4 separate regions of the Homo sapiens genome follow, and all the other regions are reported to be linked to region 4. The links are microRNA targets in miRTarBase. Many come from high-throughput screens and were not tested one by one. Region 4 holds a microRNA gene; each other region holds the end of a gene's coding sequence.

Region 1 (7,937 bases), not on the chromosome of region 4:
ATTGGCTTAACTTAACAGTATTCTCTTTACTGTGTTCAGGAGGCTTTTCAACTCGACCATTTGTGAGAAGTGTCCAGCGTCAGAGTTTGTCATCCAGATCTTCTGTCACCAGCCCCTTGGCCGTCAATGAAAATTGCATGAGACCTTCATGGTCCCTGTCTGCTAAGCTGCAGATGCGCTCCAATTCTCCATCCCGATTTTCAGGGGATTCGCCAATTCACAGCTCTGCTTCCACCTTGGAGAAGATTGGGGAGGCAGCAGATGACAAGGTCTCCATCTCTTGCTTTGGTAGCTTGCGGAACCTTTCTAGCAGTTACCAGGAACCAAGCGACAGTCATAGTCGCCGTGAGCACAAGGCTGTGGGCCGGGCCCCTCTGGCTGTCATGGAAGGCGTGTTCAAAGACGAATCGGACACCCGCAGATTGAACTCCAGTGTCGTAGATACACAGAGCAAACATTCAGCACAAGGGGACCGCCTGCCCCCGCTCTCTGGTCCATTTGATAACAATAATCAGATCGCTTATGTGGATCAGAGCGACTCCGTAGACAGCTCTCCAGTCAAAGAGGTGAAAGCCCCCAGCCACCCAGGCTCACTCGCAAAGAAACCAGAGAGCACAACTAAGAGATCCCCCAGTTCCAAAGGCACTTCTGAGCCAGAGAAAAGCTTGCGGAAGGGGAGACCAGCCTTGGCAAGCCAGGAGTCATCCCTTTCAAGTACATCCCCTTCTTCTCCTCTTCCTGTAAAAGTCTCTCTAAAGCCCTCCCGCTCCCGCAGCAAAGCAGATTCTTCTTCCAGGGGCAGTGGACGGCATTCATCCCCTGCCCCTGCCCAACCCAAAAAGGAGTCATCCCCGAAATCTCAGGACTCCGTGTCATCTCCTTCGCCACAGAAGCAGAAGTCAGCCTCGGCCCTCACCTACACTGCTTCCTCCACATCTGCCAAAAAGGCCTCGGGCCCTGCCACAAGGAGCCCTTTCCCACCTGGGAAGAGCAGGACTTCAGACCACAGCTTGAGTAGAGAGGGCTCCAGACAAAGCTTGGGTTCTGACAGAGCCAGCGCCACCTCCACCTCCAAACCCAATTCCCCTCGGGTGAGCCAGGCCCGAGCAGGGGAGGGCAGGGGGGCCGGGAAGCACGTGCGGAGCTCCTCCATGGCCAGCCTGCGCTCCCCCAGCACAAGCATCAAGTCTGGTTTGAAGAGGGACAGCAAGTCTGAGGACAAGGGGCTGTCCTTCTTCAAATCAGCCTTGAGACAGAAGGAAACCCGGCGCTCGACGGATCTTGGCAAGACAGCCTTGCTCTCTAAAAAGGCTGGTGGGAGCTCTGTTAAGTCTGTCTGTAAGAACACCGGGGACGACGAGGCAGAGAGAGGCCACCAGCCTCCAGCTTCCCAGCAGCCAAATGCAAATACAACGGGAAAAGAGCAGCTTGTCACCAAGGACCCTGCTTCTGCCAAACATTCCCTGCTGTCCGCTCGCAAATCCAAGTCTTCCCAACTAGACTCTGGAGTTCCCTCGTCTCCGGGTGGCAGGCAGTCTGCAGAGAAATCCTCAAAAAAGTTATCTTCTAGCATGCAAACCTCTGCACGGCCTTCTCAAAAACCTCAGTGATATTTCTGCAATCAAAGTGTTTTATCTGTAAAGATGTTTATTTATTTAGAACCCCTGCCCTCCCACCAAAGCCTCCTGTGCTTTTGTTTTGTACTTTTTTGAGTCACGTGCCCGACTGTGTGTGTGTGTGTGAGTGTATGCGTGTGTGTGTCTAATTCAATTGCAAATTGTTCAAAGCGTCGCCTTATTCTGCCATTGAACCAAATAACAGCCATAGGCAAAACATTGACACCAAGCTAACTGGAATAATTGTAGACGATACCCAGGACGGTCCCTTTAGCAATTGTACATATTTCTTTCTAGAGAACTCTAATGACTTTCTTTGGATATGAGGGTTTTGAAACCTGTGAACCAGAAAAGCTACCATTAGTGCGTAGAAGGAGGAAGGAGCTGACTCGTGTTTCTTCTGAGCAGGACTTGTCCTTACTGTGGATTGTGGGTGGCACCAGGAGCTCTAAAAACTGTGACTCTAACAACGAAACAAATCGAGGGAAAAACTCTTGCTTTCTGCACTTTCGCCCCATCTACCAGTCTTTGTAAAGGGCAATATTTTAACACTAATGTTTCTCAGGTATATACTCAGCTAGTCTAGGATGGTTGCACACCAGTAAATGGATTAAAGAGGAAGGTGCCATGTGGGTGACTGTGTCATTTCTCCTACTGCCACAGATAGACATTTTCGAGGTAGAAATGAAGCCTTTCACCACCTTCCTATCTGTGGTGACATGTGCACCAAAACCTGTCTTGACTCTTGGGATAGGTCCTAGGAAGTGGCAGATTGGATAGCCAGAAAGCCAGTCACTCGTTTAATTTTTTTTCCTTCTGAAATTACTAGCTAAGGCTCTTGGAATTTTGCACTGTAGTAGAGCAGTTAACACCTTTGACAGATTCCTGGAAAAAACTTCTAGATTCTAAACTGGGTGAAAGACTGGACATCATTTTCCTTGTCAGGTGTTGCATTTTTCCGTTAGAGGTGGGAAGCTCCACGATGCCCTGTGTCTGTGGGCTCATGTTCCCTCATCTTGTAGCTTGGAGAGGAAAGAAGTTGCCTTCTGCCAAAAGCCAATGGTGGTATGTTGAAGCGTTGTGTGATCAAGTGTTACATATGCACTTCAGATCCTGTCTGTCAGTCTCTGTTAGGGCTGCCTTTCAGTAACTCATTTATTATTTCTTCTTTGTTCTTAAGATTTCATCTCATGCCCAGAACTCACAAGCAGGTTTTGGAGTGTGTTCCATCTGGCCGTGTCAGTGCAAATTGCATTTCTTACAAAGGAGAACCTCACCAAAAAAAACCTCACAGATAAGCAAAGTATATAGTTTTGCAAGCTTTTTCAAGGTCTCCTGGCAATACTTTCCTGCTCAATTTTTAGCTTTTCTTTTTTTTTTAAATGTCAAGAGAGTGAAGGTCTTGATTCTCTCTGAATAGCATTTGTCACTTTGCCAGTAAATACAGCATGCTAAGTTTATGTGCTTTTAAATATTAGCGTTTTTCGTCAGACTCTTCAAGTTCTTCTTGAACCCTTGGTGCACAGATCCATATATAACCTCCCTTTTCAGTATTGCTGTGTGTGAATTAACTACAACACATATGCATGCATAGCTGTGAATTCTGCACTACTTTTTTTTTCTTTTTTCCCCCCAAGAATATCTCTTGGGAAAAGTTTTTAGTACGTTACTTAACTTTATTTTGCTGCTAATTTGCGCATTAGCCGGTAACTTGCAAGTCTGGAGACCACTTACTGTTGAGGGTAGCTGGAATTTTAGACCCTTGGCAGTATTTAAGATTTAGACATTTAGCCTTGTGAAAGTTACCACAGTGCTCCATGTGATTCATTGACTGTGAGCCTGTTGTCCATTGCACTCAGCCCTGTACTCACTTCTTCACTCGCTGTCCTGGTTTTACTGTTCAGATTTTGGTGGGTTCTCAAAGCAGTACCACTCTCATCTGCTCAGTACATCTGCGGCAACTGGCTGCCTTCGATGCTGTCATTGCGTTCAGCCCAGCACATCACAGCCCCATCAGTGTGTAGCCACCGCTCTCGTTTTTCTGTATCGCTTTTATCTCCTGAAAAAGATGCACCAAATAAGAGATCATCTATATCAGGAATTGAATGTCTAACTCAAACCTCTCATTTTTGTTTAATAGGTAGATCTCATTTGAAGTCTCCTATCTGAATCTCTGAAACAATTATAGTTTGATTAGACAAAGGTTTTTAATAACACTTCTTTTTTGCTGTAGTCAAGCATTAATAGAAACTAGTTTAATTTTCACAGTGGTAAATATTTTTATTCTTGAGTTATCTAGGAATGGATTTTCCACGATGTCTAGTGACTTAAAAAAAAAAAGGAAAAACGTTTCTACAAATCCCTTTGGTTTTCCATGGGATCTGGAATAAAATGTCAGTGTCTATAAACTGTATGTCATGGAGTTTAGTCCTTGTTTCAGGTTTAATAGAAAAAATCAGGAAGTATCATGGCATTGTCTAGACATCATGAAGCTATTTTATTTCCATAGTTGGTAAACAGTGAAAATTTCATTATCTCCAACTACTAGGTACAACTTTAGGCCACAGGAAAGGTTATTTGGCCCGAAAGTTTGGAGGTGCTCCTTGAGGTGGGAAGTATCTTGTGGGAAAGTAGTTACTTGATTCAATTTAGTTCATTGGTAGGGTTGGGGACTTGGTGTTGGTTTCTTTCTTTCTTTTCTTTTTTTTTTTTTTTTTAATTTTCCCAGCAATATTTAGCACAATGAGCGTGTATGTGCTTTGGGGTTAAAAATTATCTGCTAGGGATGATAGGCCTGGGTTTCTCGTTGACATCTAGATGGGCCTGATTAGAGCAGTCATCTCCTGGTAGGCACAAAATAATCACCAACAGTAATGTTGTATCTGTAATGTTTGTTTGCTTTTTAAAGTTTTATTCTTGATTTCTTGTAAACATCCATTGCACTGAGGCCGTATCATTCCTTAAGACAGCCCTACATCTTGCCTTGGTAATCCCTTAGATAATGTGGAAACTCAAACCGTTAGGCTCCAGTCATCTTAGACCATTTCCCATCCGTTTTGTATTTTCTCGTCCTGAAAGCAGCTGAACTGAAAGTAAGTAATAATATGCTGGACCAGTGGGAACGGATGTGGGAGTATTTGTGGTGTGCTAAAATACTGTAATTATCTGTGAGGCTGCCTGACACGCTTTTGCAATCTTGTTTTCATCATTCATTCTGCAAACGTTTATGGAGGGCCTTCTTTGAGCACAGAGGCAAAACTGAAAGCTTCAGGGATTTGCTGTAGCTGAGGAGCCCTGGGAGCACAGCCCATCAAGCAAGGGATGTGATGGTGTCCTAAATGGAGTGACAGTTCTCCTGGGAAAAGAGATCACGTGGATTCCGGTCAAATCGGCTAAGGCTTGTGGTTCTCTTGAGCAAGTCTGTTCCTTCTGGAAACCAAAAGTGCCCTTCATCTTTAGAGACATTTTACTCTTCCATCCACCTTTTCAGACTGAGCTGTCTCTACTATTTAGGGGTTGAAAATCCATTACACAGTCACTTTACGTTAACATTGGGTCATCTTATGTTTGTATGAGACGGATGTGGGATTTGAGGGGAACATTGTCATTCCCTTAAAATAACTATCATGAAAAAAATAGCAACAGTATGTAAAGGGACCAAGAGTGGCAGCCTTTAGGGAAAATGGAGCAGAGAAGAGCTGTGAACAAAGCTCATTTATTTGAAATAAGCGTGCTTTATTTCACATAGAGGGGCATCAGACGTTACATTTCATTCGGACAAATTACTGAACAGCCGAAGTGATTGTTTCCAATGTAGGTTATTATAATTATTGGATACAAAGATTTAACTAGTGTTTCTGGGTTGGATTTTTGAAATAGTATGCAAGTCATAAGCACAGTTTCAATAAAACACGTATTCTGGAGGTGCGTGGAACTTTGTATTATTTGTAGTTGAGAAAGGCAAACTTTGCTGACAAACCAGTACCTATCACAAACGAACACAAAAAGTAGCTGTTACTGTGCAGGCTGTCTTTAACTTTCATTTCATAAAGGGTACATTATTGTTAAACTCTACTACATGGTTTGGGGAGAAATCCAGTGGTTTTATTTAAATGAACACTCTCACACTGCCTTTTGATCAACTTTCAAAGTATTTTGCAGATGCATTTTGAGCATGACCATTTTTTTCCCCAAGTAAAAACAATTGTGCGTGGCCTCCATATAACTCAGAAAGCATGCTCTTACTACCTATGCAAGCAAACAATAAAACATATAGACATGAAATGTTAAGTCTTAAAAAAAAAAGGCAACAATTATGGAGCTCTATTTTTAAATTTGTGATTTTCAAAATATGGCTTACTCATCATTGTGTAGAAGAGCATGAATGCGATTTCTTGTTTTGCTCTGCATATATTTCTCTGCTGTTTTTCTGATCATTGGCGAGATTGTAAAGTATTTTGCAAGCAGAAGTGGAATTGGATATGTTGAACACACATCATTGGTGTACATACTGTATTTAGCCTGAAGACTTTCCTAAAGTGTTTTGTTCTAAAAATAACCTGCCATTTTCTATAGATTTTAATTTTTTATATCTTCAAGGGTTCTATTTTGGTCACAAGGAAAGAATGTGGCTTCTAATAGTGCTAAGAATTAAAAGATGCTTTTATAGAGACTTAGAGCTATTTTGAAAAGCTTTGGGGCTTCCCAGCCACTGATCACAATTAGACTAAGCCCATGGAATTTCTGGGAGTGTTGTGCAGTGGATTCGGTTCTAGATCCATCTTACATTTGTTTAGTGTTTCCCAATTTTTGGGAGAAGGGGTGCACAGCAAATTTGAGAGACTTTTTTGAATCTCACACATGTATTTTCCTCAAGATTCTTTTAAGCCTCTTCTGAATGACTTGTCTGAGATAGTGAAGACCCACATTAACTAGAATCAGCTGGGGAACTTTAAAAAATACAGTGCCTGGGTCCCAGTCCCTAGCTTTTGATCTAATTCATGTAGGGGTGGGATCCAGGAATTACCATGTATTTTAAAAGCTTCTGGGTGTTTCTAATTTGCAGACAGATTGAGAACCACTATGATACGTCATCCCTTTACTGAGAATTATGGCGAGAATCACTGCCATTTGAATTACTCAGGAGTGACTGATTCCTCAGTTGTGTAGGAGAAGCAGAAAAAATAAGAATAAAAAGAATTGAGAGATACTGATATCAAACTCCCATTTGAAATACAAGGGCCCTTCTGATTCAAGGCCCAGTTGGGGAGCTTGGACCATGTTGTGAATGGCCTAGCACTCGCCAGTCTGGTGGAAATTGGTGGTCTTAGTTGCTGGAGCAGGCTGAGTGTCCCCGCGGGGTTTGCATCTGTCCCCAGAACCTTTTCCCCAGGCCCGTGGGGGAATAGGGAAGTCACTCTGAGCTAGAAATTGTCGAAGAAGAAAAGAAACAACCTTCCTAGCCTTGGAAAGCCTGTCCCTGCTTTTGATAGAATTATTGCCTTTTTGTAGGAATTACAGTAGCAAACCCCAGGCTGCCGCTGAATTTCCTACTTTTGCTCATTCTCTAGGATAGTTCTTATCCAGAATGTGGTTTCAGGAATTCTTTTTTTTAGTTTGAAAATGAATGTGAAACATTTTCTTTGGTGTCTTTTTTTTAAAAAAAAAAAACCCTTATTGCTATTTTTTCGTGTTTTTGTTTTGTTTTGTTTTTTGTTTGTTTTACCATTAAGTAATACACATCCCAGAATTTGGCACTCTGTGTTAACTGTGGAGGCAAATAAAATTTAGTTTTAATCTGTGGTGAGCTGAATGCACTACAACACCTTCGAAGTAATCTGATGGTTTCATTCTGTCGAGCCTCATGCTGCCTACAAAACACCACAATTTACCTGGTGTTTTCAACATTTTAAGGAATGAAGATACAAGTAGACATGCAAGTTGGAAATGTTTCTTTAGAAAGGCCATCCAGAATAATGATATCTGTTGCAGTCGTCCAAATGCAATATGAAATTTCCTAGGTGCTATTATAAACGGTGTGGTGTCATACCAAATGCAAAAGCAGTTACAGTATTTCCGAAGTTGGAGTTCTCTTTGTAGGCCTTTCAAATACGTGTTTGCATTCCATAGAGGTCTGCTCACCAACTGTGCCTCTCACCACTGGTTAAAATTGAATTTAAGCCTCATTGACATAAGTCGTTTCTTGATTGAACTCTTCAGTTTTTACACTGGAATTTCTGTAGTTGTCTTGAAAGCTGCATGTCACATCACTGTACACAAAGTGCTTTGGTATTACTCATGCACCGTGGATAGTGATTTCTG
Region 2 (7,838 bases), not on the chromosome of region 4:
TACAGAGAAGGGCCTGCCATTGCGAAAGACCCATGTGCTGTTGGGAAGGAGCCATGACACAGTGCAGGAGGCAGCCACCAGCCGCAGAGCCAGGGCCAGCAAGAAGACTGCCCAGCCCTGGGTCGAAGTAGTGTTGGCCTTGCGGAACATGAAGAACCTGCTGTTTTCCGAAATGTGGGACATATTTCTGGTGCGCTTGCTGATGGCCATGGCAGTCATGCTGTACTACAGTAACTTTGTCCTGGCCCTGGAGGAGCGCTTTGGGGTGCGGCCCAAGGTGACAGGCTACCTCATCAGTTACAGCAGCATGCTGGGGGCCGTGGCCGGCCTTGCCCTGGGGCCAATCCTACGGCTGTACAAGCACAACTCGCAGGCACTGCTGCTGCATTCCAGCATACTCACCTGCACACTGCTGCTGCTCTACTCCTTGGCCCCCACCATGGGTGCAGTTGTCCTCTCCTCCACTCTCCTGTCCTTCTCCACTGCCATTGGCAGGACGTGCATCACGGACCTCCAGCTGACTGTGGGCGGGGCCCAGGCCAGCGGCACCCTTATTGGCGTGGGGCAGTCTGTGACTGCAGTGGGCCGCATCATCGCCCCTCTCCTCTCGGGGGTTGCCCAGGAGGTCAGCCCTTGCGGCCCCCCCAGCCTGGGCGCTGTGTTAGCCTTAGTGGCCATTTTCATAATGTCTCTAAACAAGCGACACTCTAGTGGTGATGGGAATAGTAAATTAAAAAGTGAGTAGATGGATTTGGACAACATAAAGCAACAAAATTTGAGATGGTTGAATGAGGGCCGGAGGCCATGATGAAAAGGGCACTTTGGAAAGGGTTGGGGTGGAAGGGAAATATTTCCGGGTGGGTGTGAGCTGTTGGGCTTCCAGGTCAGCTCTTGGCCATGCAGCCATGCCTGCAGGATGATCAGAAGTCACGGCACCTCATGGGAAGGTTAAGACTGGAGCAAAGCTTTTCCAAGGTGAGCATATTCAGCGTTTACCTGGAAGTCTCTTCTTCCCACCTGGGCTAATCAGGTTACAATTTTCAAGGGTAAACAAACTACCAGCTACAGGATAGGGAAGTGGTGGTGGAATAAGAGAACATGATACCTGGAGGAAGGGAAGAAACCACAAGCATTTTCCTACTGAAAAATAGGGTGACATGTCAGTCAAATTCTGATCAACTGGAACTTGAGTTTCCAGTTAAATTCCATACACTAGGAGGGAGTTTTCTATCAAAATCCTGCAGATTGAAGAAGCTGGTTTATTAGAACCAGCCTGTCGCTTTTCAAAGCTGCTTAAAAATAAGATACTGACCTCACCCCTAGAGATGATTCAGTGGGCCTGGGTGGGGCCAAGAAATCCGTGGTGTTTTGTAAGCACTGCTGGCGATTTCTCATGGCAGTAAAGACCACACTGAGACTGCACTGATTTTGATTAAAGTACATAGGCTTGGCTGTTTTTACACAGCTAACTAAATTTGGACTCTTAAAATTGTGTTTGTAATCACAGTGTGTTACACCTTTCCCAGCTCTCAGCAGTTGTACTGCATGATGGAGCAGCGGGCCCCTGGGACCTGTTCCCTGTGCTCCCTGCCTCTGAGAGCCCAGCTTGCTCTGAAGTTGGACTAAACCACTTAGATGCTGGGGTTGCCACAGCCTGCTCCTGGAAGCCTGCATTCCAGTCAGGTTGCATCCTTCTGGTGCTGACAGAACCCAGTGGTGAAGCCAAAGCACAGGAATGCTTTAAAAATGAACAGTTTATGCAGAATAAGGGTCAGGAGTCATGCCAGACCAGAACTTGATGCTACTGTGTCTTGTGTTAAGAATCATTTCCTGGCCAGGCTCGGTGGCTCAGGCCTGTAATCCCAGCACTTTGGGAGGCTGAGGCAGGTGAATCACTTGGTCAGGAGATGGAGACCATTCTGGCTAACATGGTGAAACCCCGTCTCTACTAAAAATACAAAAAAAAAATTAGCCGGGCGTGATGGCGGGCGCCTGCAGTCCCAGCTATTCGGGAGGCTGAGGTAGAATGGCGTGAACCTGGGAGGCGGAGCTTGCGGTGAGCCAAGATTGTGCCACTGCTCTCCAGCCTGGGCGACAGAGTGAGACTCCGTCTCAAAAAAAAAAGAATCATTTCCTTTATTTTTAGTTTCACGCCTGCAAACACAAGCATTCTGTTGATCAACGGAAATATTTTGATGTGCCATTTCTTGTCTAAACAAGTTTCATATACAGCACCGAGGGGGCCACGAGAGGCAGAGGCCCAGACAGAAGGTGAACATAGCCTTGCAGGGAGACATATGCCAGGCAGGATGACCATTGGGATTGCATCAAGTATTAATCAGTTACTTAAGGGCTTCCTGTCAGACAGTTGAAGTTCACATTCCTTTTACTTTTCTTAATTAGTCCACTAGGATGGTATGCCTGTTTTCAACTTAACACATGCATACTTGTAAATATTTTAGTATGCTACAGTAATTTGTCATATCTTTAATATTTATTGTTTGTAAAGCAGTAAACATTTCTGTATTTTAGAAGTCATGGAGTAAAATCAAATATTTATGATAAATAATTGGAAGTATGTTTTAGTTTGAAGATTGTCCTTTTTCCTATCTTGCTGCAAGGAAAAATGGACTTCTGATTAGGTTTTACAATTGTGAACTTTTATGTAAATGTTAAGTGCTTTCGAGGAGACCAAACTATTATTAATATATAAAATGGCCTTGCCCTTAAGGAGCAAATTAAATCTCATGGAGATTAGACTCAAAAGGCAATAAATAATCGAGGGTTTATGCAATGAAATAGAATTTCAGAAGAGTTTGGATCTCAAAGATTGTCCTTCACTCTCAGAAACAGGCAAGTTTCTTAAAAGCCCTTATAGTCGTGTTTTTATTTTAAAAATCGTAGCACTTTATTTTTGAAGTTTAAAAAGCCCATAAACTTAATGAGTCTTTATAATCAGACACATGGAAATATAGAAAACCAAAGACTGATCTTAGAATATAGAGTAGAGAGACATGTTTGTTATTCTCCACTAGTGACTTTAGTATTTTGTTATGTGATGTTTTTTAGGTGCACCTTTTCTCATGACTCCTTTTACTTTATCTAATGTCTTCCTCTTTAAAGTGTGACCCAGAGACCAGTAGCATCAGCATCACCTGAGACCTGTGAACACTGAAGCTCCAGCTCAGACATGTTGGGGACCATTTTAATAAGATACCTAGCTGATTTTTTGCACAGCAAACTTTGAAAACCCCTGGTCTAAGGGGTAGTATTTGTATCACTTATGGAATATAATCTCAGGGAAATTAAATCTGCTCAATTGACATTTGTGGTGTTTCATTTTTTAAATTCTCTTGAGTAACTTCTGTAGCCCTTTCCAGTGTGTCAGGTTGAGCCACATGAAGTTGCTATTTTTGTAAGTCAAAAATATCTTCATAGGGTGCAACTCACTATTCTATGGAATCTTATTTTAGGAGTATTGAACCTTCCTGAAATGTCTTTGAAGGAAGTGTCACCCTTTCCAACACTCTGCCAGCCATAACTGCTTGGGAACAGGTCTCCAGGATTTGGGTTCCATAGAGCAGAAGGTAGGCCTCTGCCCTCATGTCTAGAGGGATGAATAACATTCTGAAAAGGTACAGGGTGTGTCTAGTCACAGGAGTCACCTGCAAGGCTCCAAACTCAGGCTGGATGGCCCCTTGGGGAGTGAATTCTGCAAGAGTTGCACCTGGGGCCAACAGAAGGAGCTGGAATCACTGATTCTGTATCCTGGCTACATGCCTTAGACCACAGGAACCAGACTCTGAAGCACCACAGATGTTTCTGTGAACATCTGGAGTTGGGAATCACTGAGTTAGATCAAGAATGGATTCGGCTGCCATGCTCGGGTTGAGATTGTATTGACGGATGAAGGGGAATGACGGAAGAATTCCTGCGGTAAAGTGCTGTGAAGACACTCCTGTTTTAGAAAGAGCTCTCTAGCCGCAGCAAGGAGGATTAACTGGAGGCCCAAGGAGTAGTCTGGACTTTGGGGCAGTAACTTTAGGGGGGCCCTGAGGGAGAGCTGGTCGCGAGGACAGGGACAGCAGGCAGAGGTTGTGGCCCACAGGGCAATCGCAGGAGAGGTTGTGAATAATTCCCAGGTGATGAGTGTGCAGCTTTGAGGAATTTCAAAGGGTTGCTTGGCGTCTTTTCCTGAAGACACTTCTATAAGGTATTTAGAAATCTATCAGGAGTGAGAATCAGTCCAGTCAGAAAATTTTAGGCATTTGGGCAACTGCATTCAGAAAACAGCTATTTATTTGGAATGCATAATAAAAGCCATGAGACTGAATCTCCATGCCTCTTTGCCCCCTAGTAGCCTTCAAGAAGTCTCTAAAACAGGGTTACCACAGATTTAGCCAGGATGATGTGTAGCAGCTTTTCTTGGAACAGGTTGATGGATTAAAATAACTTTTTTTCAGCTCTAATGTTTTTTTCTTGAATTTGCCAGTCACATGATAATTTTCTTCAAAAATAAAACTTTATAATTGTAATGAGGAACTGTCATTTATTCTTATAAGTTGTATTTTTAGAAGTCACTGATGTGTCTTGCTACATATTTCAATTCAGGATCCAGAAGTGCTTTGAAAAATGTCATCTCCAGTATGCTAGAACACATCTTAATATTAAAAACAAGGCTTTGGCTTTTAAAACCATTATGCAGATACCAAATATATATGTAATCTGACATTTATACTGAAGGCCAGTAAGTAGAGGACAGTTGATCCTTGAACAACACAGGGGTTAGGAGTGCCAAGCCCCCAAAACGGTAGAAAATTTGAGTGTAACTTTTGACTCTCTAAAAATTTACTACTAATAGCTTACTGTTGACATGAAGCCCTACCAACAATATTAATAGTCGACTGACATGTATTTTGTGTGTTACATATATACTGTATTTTTACAATGAAGTAAGCTAGAGAAAAAATGTTAAGAAAAAGAAAAATAATATTATTAAGTGGAAATGGAATCATAAGGGTCTTCATCCTTGCCACCTTCATTTTGAGTAGGCTGAGGGGGAGGAGGAGAAGAAGGGATTGATCTTGCTGTCTTAGGGGTGGCAGAGATGGAAGAAAATCCCCGTTTAAGTGGACCTGTATAGTTCAACTCTGTGTTGCTGAAGGGTCAACTGTACTTTTAAGGTAACATCTCACAGTAGGATTTATTTCTAGTTAAGCAGATGCACAAATACTTAGATCTCTCATTTTTCCCAAACAGGTATCTAAACACCATTTTATAGATAGCTGTCTACTAAAACAATAAAAGCAAAACTTCTGTTTTCCTGTTTCAGTATATTATAAGAAACGTTTATTTATGAGATGGAGTCTCACTCTGTTGCTCAGGCTGGAGTGCAATGGCACAATCTTGGCTCACTGCAACCTCTGCTTCCGGGTTCAAGCAATTCTCCTGCCTCAGCCTCCCGAGTTGCTGGGACTACAGGCACGCGCCACCACGCCCAGATAATTTTTGTATTTTTAGTAGAGACAGGGTTTCACTATGTTAGCCAGGCTGGTCTCAAACCCCTGACCTCAGGCGATCCGCCCACCTCTGCCTCCCAGAGTGCTAGGATTACAGGCGTGAGCAACGGTGCCTGGCCACTGATTCTTATTTTTAAAAGTGACTTAACACAGCTTGTATTGTTCCTTCCAGGGAGAAGATAATTATAAACATTAAGGAAGGAGTGTTAATTATTGCTGATAACTTACACAGCGTAAGAATGAACTGTAAGGATCTTGTTTGAACAAAGAATTGTATTTTGATCAGTCTTTATACTACATCTTGATACAGTTCTTTTTTCTAAGCATCCACTGTAGAGGAAGAAAGTGGTTAAAATACCTATTAATGATTGCAACTTATAACATGGATAGGAGACAGTCTTCCTTCAAGCTTACCAAAGAATCTCCATGCCATTTTGAGTAGTTGAGACACAGCCTCTTATCCAGACAGAACTAGTTTTTTGTGTGATAGCTTACCTACCTAAACCTGTCCCAAGTTTGCTTAATGAAATTGAAACCACATGAAATATCCAAAGCAAACCTAATAAAGGTGTTCTGCCGCTGACTCGGGCTGGACCCTTGTGGGGCTGTATGTATGCGACTTGGTAGGTGTTTGCCTTAAGTAGTCTGTTCTGTGGGGCTGAAGCATAGGCCTGGCCATCTCAAAGCCTAACATCTGTCAGGCCCAGTCTGTGACGTCACTGACAAGGGTGAGCATTTTCTTTGGGGCACCTTCAAAGTACCTTCACTGTGCATCTCTTTGGAGTGAATAGCACTGAAAGCATGATGAACTGTTACTGCCATTCAAAATAACTTTCTAGCTAAAGGTCAGGACTTAAACTAAAGGTTCAATAGTAAGACATAGTTATGGTAGCAAATCTATTATTTATTAATCAGATGCCAAACTATGTATTCATGGAAACCTAAAATTTGATGTGTTAATACACATCTTTGCATAATCTTTAAAAATTATTAAGGCAATAATTGGAATTAACTTCTTTTCTTTACGTTTGCATGGGAAGGCCGTATTTAATATTTAAAAGCATACACCATTTTTGAGCCCTTTTGCAGAGCCTTTTTAGATATAAAAATTAATGCACCAATTAAAATGTTTATTCCTCTAATCACGTTCTATTACACTGTAATAGAGTTAGCCTAGTCTGAGATATATGTATTTGGAATTAATAGAATTGAAATTTTCAATACTCTGAAGCTCTTACCTTTGAAGAATTCTAGCCATCACAATCCCATTCAACATAAATGAGAGTGGTTTCATACACAAATACAAAAACTGGGACTGTTCTGTTTTCATGTATGTACTATTTTCTCCATAAGTGATTAAAGGTTTACATGTGATTTAATATTTAAACTTTGGTAAGATTTTTCATAGAAACAAGGAAAAATTTCCTTTGTCCGTGTACATATACAAAATTTGTTTGGTAAGCAGGGTTATCCTAAGTGGATACAAAGAGCTTCATCTAAATTAGAAATTTAGTCTCCAGTCATACTTATGACTCAGCAGGAGCCAATAAAATAAAAAAGGATTAAAATGTCTGAATTTTTAATTCAAGATGTTTTGTTCCAGAAATCAGAAAAATCACAGCCTCTGTATCTGGTATTCTGTCTGCTGGGCATCTCATGGAGTGACATTTCCGTACCCTCCAGTAGGAGAACAACAGATTCCCATACAACCTCTGCACATACTGAAAGTTCTTGACGTATGTTCTGAGCCATCAAAATAATCTCTATGCTGTGTAGATTGAAAAGTTGATAATAATCCATTCACAGTAGACAGGTTAACTCTACACCTAGAAAAACTCATTTCCTGACCATGCGATTAAGAGAACAAAACTACGATTTATTAGCTATACATAGTAAAATATGATTTTATCTGAAAAGGTGCAGGAAGTTTAAAAAGGAAAAAGGATCAAAAATGATGTGCCAGCGTGACACTGAAGTGGTCTGCAAAGTCCCCATCTGCATATTTGACCTGCACGCCCCAGGGTGGCTGATCCCTGTCTGAGGGTGTCAGCTAGACGCAGAGTGGATGATGCTGGTGGATTCTAAAGGAAGGTGTCATCTGTCAGGGACAAGGAGCCATGGTTATGCCACACAGCTGGTACCCAAAGGGGACTTCTGCTTTCCTTAGAAGAGGGTTGAAGAAAGGGTTGGTTAAAAAGTGAGATAAAAAGTAGCAGTGCGCCACACACTTTAACCTTGTGTGTTCTGAGCCACGAGTGTTATTTTTCAGATTGATGAGAGAATCAGCACGTGGTGTTCAAGCCTCAGCGGATAATGCCA
Region 3 (7,937 bases), not on the chromosome of region 4:
CTGGGCAGAGGTTGTGACAGAGGGGAGTGACCGAGGCCGTGACAGAGGGGAGTGGCCGAGGCCGTGACAGAGGGGGTGGCCGAGGCCGTGACAGAGGGGAGTGGCCGAGGCCGTGACAGGGGAGTGGCCGAGGCCGTGACAGTGGGGAGTGGCCGAGGCCGTGACAGTGGGGAGTGGCCGAGGCCGTGACAGAGGGGAGTGGCCGAGGCCGTGACAGTGGGGAGTGGCCGAGGCCGTGACAGAGGGGAGTGGCCGAGACCTGAGGCCGGCCCTGCTGCTTGGGGCAAGGTCTGCTCAGCTCGCCTGTGTCGGGGGCGCCTGCTGGTAGTTCAGTGAGTCACTCCACAGCTTTGGCACAGGAGGCCCCCCTGCAATGCCCTTTGCTCAGCTGAGAGACGCTGCACAGGGACCTCCCCAACACAGGCTTAGTCCCTCTCCCAGGACACGGCTCCAGGGAACGCCTGGTACCTTGTCTCTTCCCCGTGGCGGACACAGCCCCACCTCAGTGAGCAGAGCATGCAGCTCTCCGGGATGCGGTGCAGTCGGAGGTGTGCCCCACGTGAGCCTGGAGGCTGCCAAGGGCTCTGTGTCCGCCGTCCACCCCTGGACTTGGCCTTCTGCACACCTGCCTTCCCCAGTGGGCCCTGCATGTCTCCCTTGCACAGAGGGGCCGGGGCACCCCAAGGCTTCTGTAGCCACCCTGCTGCGGCGTGGAGGTGCTGGGCTGTGACGAAAGGACCTGCCTGAGGAGAGCCCCACGCACCGTCCCGCCTCTGCCTCTGCCTCTGCCTCTGTGATTTGATGAATGTCTGTGAAAGACAGAAAAACAGAACAGCTTCACCAAGAAAGAAGATGGTGTGTTTGGAAAGCCCGGGAGCCAGGCGGGCGGGCGCTGGGAGAAGCTGCTGTGTGGCCGCAGAGGCTCCTGCGCTCCGCCTGGCCCACCCAGCATGGCTTCTGGTCCCCACGTGCCTCACGGTCCAGTGTGGCTGCTGAAGCGCCAGGGACGGTCTTCATGATCGCCTGGCAGGAGAAAAGGTCATAAGAAAATGTCGTCCCAGAAGTTATTGCACGATTTCTGCTTGGGTCACGTTGGCCAGAGCTGAGTCACAGACAGGCCGCTCCTTGCTTAGAGGCACTGGGTGCTGGCCAAGGCTGGGGACCAGGGGACAGTGGAGATGGCGAGTAACGAGCTGCCGGTGCCAGGGCAGGTGTGCCTAGGAGCCGGGCCTGCTCACTCTGGGGCAGCGGCCCTCTGCCAGGGGCTCTGGTGGATGGAGGCCAGGATGCTCCGATGACCAGGCTGCCCCCGCTCGCTTGTTGGTGGTGTGGAAGCGCTGGCGGTGAGGGTTGGTCGGCCCCGCTGTGCATGTGTGGGTCTGAGCCCTGGCCGCCAGGTCTCCGTGCTGGGCCCCTCTCAGAATCCAGCTCCAGGCTCCTCCCAGCTCCTCCCAGCTTCAGGTCCTGTGAGGGTCGGTGGGGAGGTGGGGGCTGCCCGGGACGCTCTCCCCCTGCAGCCTCCGGCCGTCCTTGTGAGGCAGCAGCGGTGGGGTGAGGGCCTGCCTGCTGCGCTGGTTTCTGCTGGCTCAGGCCTGGCGTTTCCCTGGCGATCCAGGTGTTAGGGGGAGCAGACAGGCAGGAGTGGGCAAGGCCCTCACCACGGTCCTGTCCTTGCAGATCCAGCACACGGAAGACATGGAGAACGAGATCGACGAGCTGCTGCAGGAGTTCGAGGAGAAGAGTGGCCGCACCTTTCTGCACACCGTCTGCTTCTACTGAGCCCAGCGCCCGCATGGAGCCGCCTCTGGAGCTTCCTGTTGTTCATACTTTTTCCTTCCTGACATTTGTTTTTACTTACAGGTGTTCTGCTGGTGACGGTAGCATTACCCAAATAAACTGTGCATATGAAATGGGAGAGGAGATGCCAAAACGCCAGATGAAAGCAATCAAGTTTCTTCTTTTCCACTTTTACTTATGAGCAGGATATTGATTACAAAGTTTTTCTTCTTTAACCAAAAAGGAAAGACAACGGTTTGTGTGCACTTCCCGACATACCTGTGTCTTCGTGTGCCTGCCTTCCCTCCCTCCTCCCCACCGGGCCGGACTGTACAGAGCCCTGCTGCGGCGTGTTAGGAATGACCTGGAATTGTCAATAAACAGATGCTGCTGTCATTGTGCCTGGTCCTGAATTCCTGGCCCGACCCTCGCCCCTGAGGAGGTGGCAGAGGCCTAGCCCTGCCGCCCTCAGTGACCTCCGACCACTGCTTGGGAGGAGTAGCTCAGACCTGGTGGTGCTGACAGGGTCTGGGCCTACCCGTGCCTGTGCTGCCTGAAGCGGAAGCCGCCTGCTCCTGCCACAACTGCTGCCTGTGGTGGAGCGGCGTCCCCTCTCCATGTGGAACCCCCCCGGGCGGGGATCCCCCAAGGCCAGCTACGGGGGAGGCTGAGCCGGGAGGATCGCCTGAGCCCAGGAGTGGAGGCTGCAGTGAGCCTGGATGGCGCCACGACCCAGGCTGGGTCCCAGGCATAGCTTCCCGCTGACTTCCTGCTGAGGCCGGGGGTCGGCTCCCGGGCCTGAGACATGGTCACCGGTCGTGGATGAGAGTTTGGCCTCAGGACCCCGAGCCAGGGACAGCCACAGCGGAGTGGTGGCCACTGGGCCTCTGAATGGCCGGCGTCCCGACCCATGGGCCTGGGCTGACCCCCTCGTCCCCGCCCTAAGGGAAGCCTGTGCGGGGCGGCCCTGCCCTCGGCTCCTGTGCCACATCCCTCCGTTGAGGATTCCAGGGGTCATCCCGTCCCTGACCTGTGGCCCCCACGGCCGTGGGGCTGTCGCGACCTTGCGGACCCCACCCTGGAGGCACGTGCGTGCCGAGCGGACTGGGGCAGTCCCGCACCCGGCGACCTGGGAGTCCAGGACGTAGGGCGGAGCAGTGGGGCGGGAAGGGCCTCGGCGCCCCTCCAGGACCGGAGGACTGGCGTCCAGGGTCACCGGACAGGCCACCGGGGCTGGGTCTGACCAGACTGGGGCGGGACGCGAAGCCGAGGCTCCCGGGGAGGGGTCCCGGCCGGCGTCCGGGGGATGGCGGTCTCCTCCCGGCGCTGGCACGGGGCGGCCTGCGGTCTGCGCGGTCCCTCCCGAGAGGCGGAGGAAGGCGGCGGGGAGGGAGGGGGGAGGAGGGAGGAGGAGGCAGGGAGGGGGCCGGAGCCGAGCGGAGCCGAGTCGAGCCGAGCCGAGCGCATCGCAGGGAGGACCCGAGGGCGGAGCGGAGCGCGGCGGGCCGGGCCGAGAGACCCCAGAAAGGCCCCGCGTCCCTCCCCGGCGCCCCCCCCCCCGCGCCTCCTCCCCCCGGCCGGTGCCGGGGTTGCAGCGAGCGGCGGCGGACGATCCAGGGAAGCGCTGACCTCTGCGGAGGCGGCGGGGGCTCAGCATCGGGCCGGGGCCGGGGGGGCGCCGGGGCCGGGGGGCGGCGCTCCGGCCCGGCCCGGCCCCGCCCGATGTCCATGAGCGCGAACACCATGATCTTCATGATTCTGGGGGCGTCGGTCGTGATGGTGAGCGGAGGGGCTTCCCGCGCGCGCCCCCTGCTCCCCGCCCGCGCGCGCCGCCTGGCCCACCTCCCGCGCCTTGTTTACCGCCCGTGCGGCCTGCGCTCCCCTCCCCGGCCTGCGCTCCCCTCCCCGGCCTGCGCTCCCCTCCCCGGCCTGCGCTCCCCCACCCCGGCCTCCGCTCCCCTCCCCAACCTGCGATCCCCACACTCCCTACGCTCCTCTCTCCGGCCTACGCTCCCCCCACCCCGGCCTGCGCTTCCCCCTCCCCGGCCCGCGGTCCCCTCCCGGGCCTGCGCTCCCCCCACCCCGGCCTGCGCTCCCCTCCCCAGCCTGCGATCCCCATACCCGCTGCGCTCCCCCTACCAAGGCCTACGCTCCCCTCACCCCGGCCTGCGCTCTCGCTCCCCGCTTGCGCTGCCCCGACCCCGGCCTGCGCTCCCCACCCCCAGCCCCGCTTCGTCCCGCCCGCTCCTTGGCGCTGACCGGTCATGAGCTCTTCCAGGCCATCGCGTGCTTGATGGACATGAACGCGCTGCTGGACCGATTCCACAACTACATCCTCCCGCACCTGCGGGGCGAGGACCGCGTCTGCCACTGCAACTGTGGCCGGTGAGTCCACAACCGGCGCCGGCTCGACACGCGTGAGCGCACATGTGTGGCGGGGCCCACTCGGGGCGCGGGGGAACCAGCCCCACGCAGGCCGCGAGCCGCCTTCCACCCTTGAGGGCTGCCAGGTGCGCAGGGGGAGGAGCTGTCTCAAGGTGGGCGGGGGTCTCCTGGGGGCGCATGGCTTTAGGACGCCGTTCCTAGAGGCCTCCAGGGTGATGGCGGAATGGGTCACGGGGCCTCCTGGTCCAGCCTGGAGGCCGGAAAGCCGCAGCCCAGTGTGATGTCCACAGTGGAGACCCAAGCCAGCCTCATCAGGGCTGGGGCAGGAAGCGCCTGCTGGCACAGGGCTGGGCCCTGCACTGAGTCCCTGGGCAGGGGAATGCAGGTCAAGGCGGGAAGGGCCTGCCTTGAGGGGCACTGGGCACCACCCCCGGGCTGGAGAGGAGCTGAGGGATGGGCTGGGGGGGCAGCGGGGAGGTGGAGCTTCCTCAAGGTCATTCAGATTGAGGGGAGCGCCCAGACCCCCCGCACCCACCGTGTGACCCCCTCTGTGCACGTGTAGCGATGGGATCCTCTTGGCCATGCATGTTTGTACGTCCATGTACGAAATAAACATCTTCTCATGAGACGCGCATGTGTGTGGCGTCTGTGCATATACATGTGCGTACACACAGCCCCCGCGCACGCACGCATGCACTTCCACCCCTCAGGACACCCTCACGCAGTGGCCGCTGTTAACCCTGCTGAACAGATGAGGAAGTGGACGGAGGATTTAGAGGACAGGCTTTTCCAAGGTCACACAGCTAGTGAAGGACAAAGGGGGCACCAGCCCAGAACCCGTGTTCGTCATCTCTGCTGCCTCCTGCTCCGGGGGTCTCTGTGCATACGTGTGGGTGTGGGGCATGTGTGTTCAGGACAGCTGCATGTGTTGCTAAGCGTGTGACATGCCTATGGGTGCAGCAGGCGTGTCGATGAAGAACACGGGTGTTAGAGAAGGCAGAGATCGGGGTGTCTGTGACCCTCACGTGTGCTGGGCACAGGGTAGGGGGTAAGAGCTTGTGGGGTGGCCACATGCTACCAGAGAGCCCCGTGTCCCTGGCTGGCAGGTCCGACTGCTGAGCAAAGGCCTGAGGTCGGCTCCACTGCCTCCCGGAGGCTGGGCCCAGACCCGAGCTCCAGAGCATCAGAAAGGTGCGGCCTCCACGCACGTGGGCTGGGGCCGTGTGCATCCGCCTGTGGCAGCACACTGAGGGCTCCGCGGGGCAGGCAGAGGCGCCTTAGAGTATTTGCACAGGGCATGTAGGGCGGCTCATGCCGTGTCCAGAGCACGCGTGGACTCGGGTGGGTGCACGCTGAAGGCAGCCGTGTGTGGGAAGCAGAGCCACAGCCTGCTGTAGACGGTATTGCTGCGTGTGTGTCCATGTATCTATGCTCTGTTCACATCTCTACATACAGGATATGTACGTTCAGCGTACAGAGTGCCCTTGTATATTGACAACATATATGTGTATGCAAAGTACATGTATGTCACAATATACAGTGCCGTGTGCTCAGGGACATGTCAAGATGTCTCCGTGTAGCTGCAGCCAGTGTGTGTGCAGACAGCAGTCTTGCACATGCGGTATCTGCGTATCCACCATGCCCGTGCACTGCCATGAGAGGCTCCCTGTGTGTACACGCTGGTGTTCAGAACGAGTGTGTGTACATGTGTAGGCCTCATACGTGCCTATACGTAGACGTTGACGTGGAGAACGTGTATGGAAATCAATGCTCCAAAGTCTGTTGGCAGGCAGCGTCCAAACTAGACATCCGTCCATGCACGTGACGTGGCGCCCCGTGGAGAGGGTGGCTGCGTTTTGCAAAGCCAAGCGAACATGCACTCGCGTGACACACCGTGCACAGGGCGGGGGTGTGGCGCTCCCGGGGCCCATGTCCACAGTATCACGCCATGTCCCGTGCATGTGGCTGGTGTGTATACGTGATGTACACTGGGCCTCAGGTGGACACACCTGGTGTGTGTGGTGCAGGCAGGACACACGTATGTACATGTCACAGACATACGTGTGCAGATAGCATATCTCTGCCCAGGCCTATCTCCTGCTTTCACTTGGGAGACCTGAGCCCTCCAGGAAGGAGGGCCAGGTGCAGGGAGAGGAGCTACAGGTACCCAGGCCAGCCATGGTGGGGGACACAGGCTGTGACCTCTGACCCCCAAAGTTACTGAGCCCCTGGGGTGGGTGAGGACTCTCTAAGGGGTCAGGAACAGCTTCCTCCCCTGAGGGCCTCTGGCAGCTGCACATTCTGGGCAGTGGTCAGCAGCTGCCCATTGGTGACGATGGACGATGGCTGTGGACAGGCTCGTCACCAGGTGATCGGTGGCCACCAGGAATCAGCCACGGTCATGGTCACTCCTCACCGAGAGCCCTGCCACTGAAAGCGGCCACTTTCCGGATATGCTGAGGGGACTGACCTCCGGGAACCCCAGAAGAGCAGGAGGGCTTCAAGGGGAGCGTGGGGCAGGGGACACCTCCTCCCTGTTCCTGGGCTCGGGCCCCAGGACCCCCCAGATCTCACTGAGGGAAGGCACCTGTGTGGTCCCCGCTGGGCACAGGGATGGCCTGGAGAGGGCTGCAAGACCCTGGGTTGGACGGACAGGCTGGGCTTTCAGTGTGGGAAGTACTTCTGGTTGGGGTGTGGAGGGTGGGGTGGTCTCTGGGTCTCGGCTGAAAACCAGGCTGAGGCGCTGCTACGTCACCGAGGGGAAGGTGGGGGAGAAGCAGGTCTGGGGAGAGAGGAGCTATTTTTAGGCACAAGTTTAAGGTGTCTGCGGATCCCACGTGGAGACACAGGCAGCTGGAGCTCGGCGGAGATGTGGGAGGCAGCCAGGAGTGTGGACCGCAAGGCGCGTGGGGCCCGCGGGCTCCACTCCCAGGCCCTCCTGTTGGACTAGGGATCCCAGAGTTGACTGTCTGGGATGCCAGTCCGATCGGCAGAGTCAAGGCCCGGAGACCTTCCTGGGACAGGGTGAGCTGCTGGGGCGAGCTCCTTGGGGAGCTTGTGTTGCCCCAGCAGCAAGAGGCCAGAGGCTGTTGTGGCCTGAGCCTGGGCAGTTCCCCCAAGAGCCCGGGGAGGGGAGGCCGAGGGACATGGAGGCGCGCAGGCACTGAGGACGAAAGGGCCCTGGAGCCTGGACGCCGTCCATCCTGAGAGGAGCGGGGCGGGTCTGTGCCAGGCAAGGGCAAGGGGGCGTCCCCCAGGAAGGGGAGAGGATGGGGTGCTGGGTAGAGCCCCCGTGGCCTCCGACAGCACCTCCCAGGGATAGAGGAGCAGAAGAAACACCAGGGGCAGTGGGCCTGGCAGGCGCGGTGGCAGCCGTGGAGGAAAGGGCACAGCAGCGGGGGGAAGGGTGCATGGGAGTGGCTGGTCTGGGGCCAGCAGGGCTCCCTGTGTCCAGCTCTGCTCCAAGTGGCCTCCGCGGCCCCGGGGCGGGCGGGTGAGCTGTGACCCTGGCCGTGGGGACCGCCGTCCTGAGCCCCCTCCGGGGGAGGCCTCTTCCACCTGCAGCACCTTCCCGTGAGCTCCAGGCCTCAGGGAGGAGGTGCTGAGTGAGGGCCGACACCCTCGCCGGCAGCTGGTCCCGCTGTCTGCCCGGACTTCACGCTCGGCCTCCACAGCCCATGGCCACTGACCTCCCACTCCCTCTGGCCTGTGACCTGGGCCTCGTTGAGTCTGGTGCCCCCTTCCCGACCCGCCCGCCCAAGAGGCTGCTTCAGAGA
Region 4 (7,815 bases):
AAGACCAGCCTGGCCAACATGGTGAAACCGTGTCTCTACTGAAAAAAAAAAAAAAAAAAAAAAAAAAAAAAAGGCGGGGCGCGGTGGCTCACGCCTGTAATCCCTAGCACTTTGGGAAGCCGAAGCGGGCAGATCACGAGGTCAGGAGATGGAGACCATCCTGGCTTACATGGTGAAACCCTGTCTCTACTAAAAATACAAAAAAATTAGCCGGGCGTGGTGGCGGACACCTGTAGTCCCAGCTACTCAGGAGGCTGAGGCAGGAGAATGGCGAGAACCCGGGAGGCGGAGCTTGCAGTGAGCAGAGATCACAGCACTGCACTCCAGCCTGGGTGACAGAGCAAGACTCTGTCTCAAAAAAAAAAAAAAAAAAAAAAAAAAAATTAGCTCGGTGTGGTGGCTGTAGTTCTGTAGTCCCAGCTACTCCGGAGGCTGAGGCAGGCAAATCACTTGAACCTGGCAGGCGGAGGTTGCAGTGAGCCGAGATGCCACTGTACTGCAGCCTGGGTGACAGAGGGAGACTATCTCAAAAAACAAACAAAAAACCCAAAAAAACCTATAAGCATTACAGCTTGCTTGCATCATTCTCCTCAAGATTGAAAATCTCAGGAGAAAGAGTCTGGTTGGCCAAGCCTAAATCAAATGTCCACCCTCTGGGGTGACAAAATAACCCGTTAAGGACCAGGATTTCTTTCTCCTCAAGCCTATGTACAATGGAGAGAGAAAAACTCAAGGAAAACTGTGTGCAATTAGAAAGGGGAAACTGATGTGGTATTAATAAGATGTCCATTATAATTCACCCTTTAGCTGTTCAGCATTCAAGAATTTTTTTCTCATGTACTTTCAGAAATACTAGTATAATGCAGTTATTCTTCATAAGTTTCTCACCCCCTCTTCTGAGGGAGACAACCCAGTCTCATTATTTGCTGCATCACAATCAAGTCCAGGATATGTGGGTGATGTACATTTCTGCTTTAGCTTCAGCTTAACTGTGTTAGATCAAGTCCTAGAAGCAGAGCCTAAGCCAGGGATTTTTGTGCAATTGATTCACTTCGAGAGTGCTCTCAGTTGAAGCAGAATGAGGAAAGGAGCACAGGGCAGGGAAAATTGGTCAAACCATGATGCAGTCTCAGCAGTGTCAGCCTGATCCCGAGTTCCAGAGTCTGAACTATACACAGAATTGGTACCAATTTGAGACACAAAGTATGAATAAATGATCTGAAGGCCCATTCCAAGTGAGATCACCTCCACCTAGAATTTATGGTTTGATTGCATTAGTCTTAACTCTCCTGTTTCTTGGTAATTCCAGGGTAAATTCCTAGATATGCCTTGTGAGTTTTCTCATAAATTCCCATTCCCACTGATAGCAGAAAAAACTGGTCTTCCTTTTTTTATTTGAGACGGAGTTTTTCTCTTGTTGCCCAGGCTAGAGTGCAGTGGCACGATCTCGGCTCACTGCAACCTCCGCCTCCCAGATTCAAGCAATTCTCCTGCCTCAGCCTCCTGAGCAGCTGGGATTATAGGTGTGCGCCAAAGCTAATATAACTGGCACTCAATTCAGTGGTCTCTCCTTGACTATCTCGCCTTGGCTTTCACTGGTACTGCAAATCTTTTGCTATTCTGCCATCTGTATCCAGCCACTAGCTGGGCTCTTTATCTTACAGCTGCTACTATGCAGTAACCCTATCTTTCACCATAATGACCCCATCACAAGTCCCATTGGTTCTCAAGTGATGTCCCTCTTACGACATCTGGGAATCAAAGGAAAATTCTGTGGGGTGTTTGTGTCTGTAATCTCAGATCATCTCTGTGCCAAACATTGTGTATCTCTCGGTCTTCTGTGCTTTCTATCCCATGTGGTCATAGGAACACTTTGCAGGGTTTCAAATTAGAAGTGAGGCTAGTGCCTTGTTTTTGTGCTTTTGGCGTCCTTTTCAACCCATCTGGAGTTTCTGCTCTCTCATTAATCATCTCCCACTGCTCTTGCCCCGGTCTGAAATATAGGAAGGTCTCTGGGGATGGCCTGAGCCAGGAGCCGAGATAGCACCACTGCACTCCAGCCTGGGCGACACAGCCAGACCATCTTTTTAAAAACAAAAATTCTTCTCCTTTTTTTGGTTCTCTTTAACATAAAAACTTACTGGATTGAGACAGGGTCTGTCACCCAGGCTGTAGTGCAGTAGTGCCATCAAGGTTCACTGCAGCCTCCACTTCCCGGGCTCAGGCGATCCTCCCACCTCAAGCCTCCTAACTGGGACTACAGGTACGCGCCACCATGCTTGGCTAATTTTTTGTAGAGATGGGGTTTCACCATATTGCCCAGGCTGTCTCAAACTCTTGGGCTCAAGCCATCTGTCCACCTTGGCCCCCAAAATGCTGGGGTTACACGTGTGAGCCACTGCACCGAGGCTAATTAAATTTACTTCGAATCACAGCAATCTGAAGCAATTCATTACCTAATTCACGTGGAACGGTAGTAATTGAGTACTAAAAAACCTTAAAACTAATGAAAGGGTTTTTTAAAAGGAAATTTTGCTGTTTGGTTTGATTTTCTTTGCTATTAGATCAGATTTAGTATTTTACATTATATGTCTCAGTACAATAAAACAAAGGCAAACAAAATTTGAATAGTAGGGAAAGGTTTTAAATTCTTGAGATAACTAGTACAACTTGGTTTCTGTCTGTTGGCATTTTGGTAATTAACTTACAAAAAGTTAGGCTAAATTTTTGAAACTAAGTCAGCATTATACACCAGTAACTTCTTACAAAATTGTCTCAATATTCCATTTAATTAAAGAGCTTATGTTCACTTCTCCCACCCTTTGTGAAAATTCTCCCAACCTGTCCCAATTCTCACCCAAATTTTAAATACCATTTACCAATCAATAGCAGTGGCAATGCAAAAGGCCCCTCTCCCTCCCAAAGCTGTATATCAAAGATATCAATACCAGATATTCTTCAATCCATTAAGTCTTCAGTAGAATGATGTGTTTAAGGTCTGAAATTATTGTAAAATGCAAAAGTGAAAACATTTGCAGCTAATGGTCCATGTGTTACATAACTCATTTACAGGTAACAGATAAAAGCTTTGGAAGCCAGTGTTCTCTCCAGGGATGCTTTCCTTCAGTAGGATTAACAATTTGACTAAAGTGTCCTTGTCATTTTTCTTTAGGGGTAAGGGCTCATTTCACCCTGAGCAACCCCAACTCAACCACACTGGGGAAACCATACCACAGGTAGCATTCACTAGTTTTAAGTAATATTTTGACATTTACTTCATGTTCTTCATTAATCAAAAGATCACTCTACGTCCCTCCCCAAACTAAATGTCACTCAACTCTACTTCCCTTAAAAGACATTATTCTGTTCATACTATTAATACTTACATGAATTCTAGAACTGCCCAACTGTTACTTTTATTATACACAAGCCTCTGACCTAAATTCAATAATTACATTCATGACTCCTTTCCTATATAGTTGTTCATCTGTTTTGAGGCAGGAAGATTGCTTGTGCCCAGAAGATGGAGGTTGCAGTGAGCCAAGATTATGCCACTGCACTCCAGCCTGGGAAAAACAGCAAGACACTGTCTCAAAAAACAAAACAAAACAAAACAAAAACAGTTTTCAAGCTTTCTGGACAGCTGGAGGTTAATAAGTAGTACTTCAGAAATATGAGCCGGGAACCATACTCTGCAGTTATTTTACATTATCTCCGATATTCTCAAACATCAAACTAAAGCTATTTTAGAGAAAGGAACCAAGTAACTCACTCAAAATTTCTCATAGGTAATGAGGAAAGCTCTGGCTGACTATAAGAAAAAAAAAATTGGATGACTAGGCTCTCATTTTGCTAAATTACCACGTTAATTATGAGCCCAACTACCACCCCTGCCAGCTTTCACTTATAAATGCTAGAAAAACACTTCACACAAAAAAATACATAAGATTACTATATTTCCTTTTAAGAGGAACGTTTCAACAAATTTTACAGGTGTCAATCAACCCTTGTTCAAATCGGGCACACATCAAATCTAGCATCATGGGTGTTTTATTTATTTGGAAGTGAATTTTAACTATCAATACAAATGCCAAGATACTACACAAAACATCCACAGGAACTTTTTTCATCTTTTTTTTTTTTGAATTGTACACAAACATTTCCTACATAATCCAACATACAACAGAGAAATGGTACATCTTTTTCTTTCAATTTGCATACAATGGAAAAACAAGTATATATATATTTTACAAAGTTTAACTAATAAGACACTAGAGCAAATTGACAGTTTAAGTCTATAGGTGAGAAATTATCTAATAAAAATAATCAATTTTTTCAGCATTAGTCACTTCCATAACCAAGTGTTATTCTGATTAATAAAACTTGCTGCCAATCAGAATTCTGGTATATACTCATACCATTACTCAACTTGTAGTACTGCTCCCCACCTTAGTTCTTCACAACTAACATAGAAAATTGTTGAAAAGTAGGGGCAAGCATTTGCAAAAACAAACAAAAAATCCCCAGCTTATTATAAGCATGAATATGTATGATGGAATTTCTTCCCAGCAATAGACTTCCAAACCATCAAGAAATCACCAGAACTAAGTTTGCCAAGTTATTTTGCCTATGTCCAACAAGAGATGCACTTATATGTCCAACAGAGGAGCTGAAAATTAAACTTAGTGTTTAGTTTGGGGGTGGGTTGGGAAATTCAGCCACCATTTTAAAATGACTGTCTTAAAAAAAAAATGACCACCAAAAATAGGTTCACTAAATTTATTTTAAAAATCATAAAACGTTTCTTACAAAAGAGCATTACATTCTGCACACTGCTCTGAACAGATGCCAGGGACATGTGGACTATTGTTACTTTTCCTCCCTGTCCCACCCCCCAAATGTTACAGTGACCACAAAGCAAGGTGTTCACAATAATTACATGGGGGGAATTTTTTAAACCACCAACAATAACGAAAAATAAAATCCACTCACTCTGCTGCTGTTTCAAAATTTCAATGTTAGTTTTTGCACGCCCTTCCCCCCCCCAACCCTGTTTGTAAGGAACTAAAACATTACATCTGGTGAACAGCAAAGATTTCACTACACCTCAAATGCAGAACACCTATGAAGCAGAGGAATGTTGGCTTTTTAAACAGAAGCAGATAAAAAAAAAAAGATGCAGGACTCCTTCAGTTCTTCACTAGTCTTAGAAAAACTTTCCAGAATACTGCTTCACACTATAAAAAAGAAAAAATATCTTGCATTAGAATCCTTCAACATCTGCATACTGCTTCACACTATAAAAGAAAAGAAAAAAAAGTGCGAATTAGAATTTTTGCTCGTAACATCTTAATCAACATCAAGACAATTTCAATGCTAAATTAAAATGATAAACACGTCCATTACAATTAGAAGAGTTCAAAAACCATTAGCAATTACAAATTAAAGCAATGTTAAGTGTCAAGAAAAATGATGAGTAGTAAATCGGACATTAGTAGAACAGAATTAAGAAAACGGAATTGAAAGTTGTTAATATTTGGTAGAAAAGACAAAGAATGCTAGTAAGGTGTGAAATGCTGCATTTTACAGCACCAATCATTTGTCCTGTAGAGGCATGGCCTGTGCCATATGGCAGACTGTGATTTGTTGTCGATTTAGTTATCTAAAAACAACAAAATCACTAGTCTTCCACACAGAACTAGGCCAACATCCAATGAATCTTCTATATTTTCTACAGGCTCTGTACAATTTTTAACAAGTGGTTTTGGCAGCAGTTTTCACCAGAGAAATGAGAAGTTTGCTTGGTTAAGGCTTCTTCCAGCAAGATTAGTATTGAATGTCTTCATTTTTAGTAAGAAAGCAGAAGAAAAATTAAGGCAAACTATTAGAATGTTTAGAAGTTAGGTCCCCAAAAGGTTGAGACACCATGGCTTCTAAAAGAAAAAAATCAATTGAGAAGAAAAGCTTTTTAAAGGTTTTAGTATGTATAAGCTAACACAAAGCTAAACTTAAACTGACCTGTTCTGCAGCAAATACTGTGCATTCTGTATCTGGTCCTGTGTTCCTGTAATGGTAATGATCCGATCTTCGGATCCTTCTAAAGGCTCATCAATTTTGATCGAAGCTCCCGACTCATGACGGATTTGTTTAATCCGCTGACCACCTTTGCCAATAATAGATCCAGCCAACTGAAAAGATTTTTTAAAAGTATGTGTTTACGATATACTTTTAACATTTACTACCTGTATTTTCAAGGAGCATGAAGTTATTAATTTTATTCATTCAGAATCTTAACTGATGATCTAACGCTCCCTAAACCTGTCAAGGTTTGAGTTATAATGTATTTATGTCACACTTACTAATGTTTCCCTTAGTTAGTTAAGGGCTCAAAACCTACTTAACTACTTTTATTAATAGCACTGATCACTTGACAAGACTCAAACAGCTGAAAACCCAGCTCACTAAAGCCCATTAACATAACCTCAATCCTAAATGTGTATTTTTGTTAAAACCTTCTGAATTAAAAAATATACAGAAAGGAGGAATAATCATAAAAGTGATAAAATGTTCCTGGTAGTATTAAAGATACTTACATCTTTGGGAATAGTTACTTGTGTAGTAATAATAGGTCCACCAAGATCACCATATGAGCCACGACCCCCTGCATAGGAATAATCTGATTTAAATAATGAGCAGTAAGTTCATTTAAAAAGTATGAAATTAATGTTTGACTTCACAAAGGAGAGAACTTACCATATCCGGAGCCACCCTAAAAACAGAAAGAAAAAAATAGAAAATTACTTTGCCGTTGTAATTACTACCGGTACTTTAAAAAAATTCATTTAATAAAATGGAGTCTTGCTATGTTGCCCAGGCTGGTCTCAAACTCTCGGGCTCAAGTGATCCTCCTGCCTCAGACTCTTTTGTAGTTGGGATTATGAGTGAGCACCACTGCACCCAGCTTCACTATTCAAGTATTTTAATCTCATAAAATCCCTCTTCAGGAAACCAAAGTCCTCCTGTATCCTATTTTCAGTAAGTATCCTCAGGGGAATAAAAAACTTACTGGAGAGCAGGTAAGCATCTTAAATTATCACTGATATACACACGAACAACTATGATACTCAACCTGTGGTTCATAAGCCATCTGCCATTCTGATGGGCTCCATGTATCTATTGCAGAGTCCCAAGTTTCATCAGCACTGAAACCAACCTGTTAGAGATAAAAACATTAACATGAACCCGCATTGTATTTTGTTATAGAGCTGTTTTTAATATGCCTAATTTGCATGTTACATTAAAACAAAAGAGGGTACATATATAGGCAGCAATTTTGTAATCGAGGGGAACAAAGCTCAATAAAGTCGTAATCCTCCAGCAGCAAATAACAGAATTATTTAACTAGTAATCCAAACAAAATTTACTTGTAAGAAAAACTTTTTAATCACTATAACCTTCAACAAAACGTGAACTACATTGTGACAACCCTCACATACCCAACACACTGGTAATAAACCAAAGTTCTTACCATGCCGTCGTAACGGTCTCCAGGTCTCCCTCTTCTGTCATAGGCCATGAGGTCTCTGCAAGCATAGTACTTGTTGTAATCTAAACGTGCTTACATGCCACACATATCAAATCAAAGTCTACCTTGTCTACCACTAAGTGCAGCCTCTTGCAGGTTAATAATTCATAGATGGGGGAAGAAAAAACAACAACAACAAAAAAAACAACTTACCCCCCTCTAGGTGGTGGTGGTGGAGGAAGAGGAAGATTCCGAGCTCTGCTACCACCCCGGCCGCCTCGTCCGGGAGG

Evidence for each region. Region 4 holds the annotated microRNA hsa-miR-7-5p (UGGAAGACUAGUGAUUUUGUUGUU, at 5,668-5,691, opposite strand). A microRNA usually pairs through its seed, bases 2 to 8, with sites in the 3' UTR of a target mRNA and lowers its output. Matches are read on the target gene's strand: a 7mer-m8 pairs with bases 2 to 8, a 7mer-A1 pairs with bases 2 to 7 and ends in A, and an 8mer does both.
Region 1: the mRNA of USP31 is a reported target of hsa-miR-7-5p. Seed matches in the 3' UTR shown: 7mer-A1 at 5,087-5,093.
Region 2: miRTarBase lists SLC67A2 as a target of hsa-miR-7-5p. Seed matches in the 3' UTR shown: 7mer-m8 at 3,108-3,114.
Region 3: the mRNA of SSU72 is a reported target of hsa-miR-7-5p. The part of its 3' UTR that is shown has no 7-base or 8-base seed match.

What each region holds. Positions count from the first base shown.
Region 1 is chr16:23,061,719-23,069,655 of GRCh38, reverse strand. USP31 (ubiquitin specific peptidase 31) reads left to right here. Exons shown (of 16, transcript NM_020718.4): 16 at 40-7,937. The coding sequence ends at 1,610. Among named protein-coding and RNA genes, the nearest start is that of USP31, 84 kb to the left of the region's middle. RefSeq lists an enhancer at 1,185-1,686.
Region 2 is chr2:102,711,327-102,719,164 of GRCh38, reverse strand. SLC67A2 (solute carrier family 67 member 2) reads left to right here. Exons shown (of 6, transcript NM_032718.5): 6 at 1-4,535. The coding sequence ends at 745. It overlaps SLC9A2 (solute carrier family 9 member A2), which reads right to left. Exons shown (of 12, transcript NM_003048.6): 12 at 7,810-7,838. Among named protein-coding and RNA genes, the nearest start is that of SLC67A2, 22 kb to the left of the region's middle.
Region 3 is chr1:1,535,908-1,543,844 of GRCh38, reverse strand. It overlaps SSU72 (SSU72 homolog, RNA polymerase II CTD phosphatase), which reads left to right. Exons shown (of 5, transcript NM_014188.3): 5 at 1,678-2,172. The coding sequence ends at 1,779. TMEM240 (transmembrane protein 240) reads left to right here and starts at 3,221. Exons shown (of 4, transcript NM_001114748.2): 1 at 3,221-3,555; 2 at 4,055-4,161. The coding sequence starts at 3,499. RefSeq lists a silencer at 4,342-4,636.
Region 4 is chr9:83,964,144-83,971,958 of GRCh38, forward strand. It overlaps MIR7-1 (microRNA 7-1), which reads right to left and starts at 5,714; the gene lies at 5,605-5,714. It overlaps HNRNPK (heterogeneous nuclear ribonucleoprotein K), which reads right to left. Exons shown (of 17, transcript NM_031263.4): 11 at 7,739-7,815; 12 at 7,529-7,583; 13 at 7,130-7,213; 14 at 6,754-6,769; 15 at 6,594-6,676; 16 at 6,019-6,188; 17 at 3,940-5,297. The coding sequence ends at 5,264.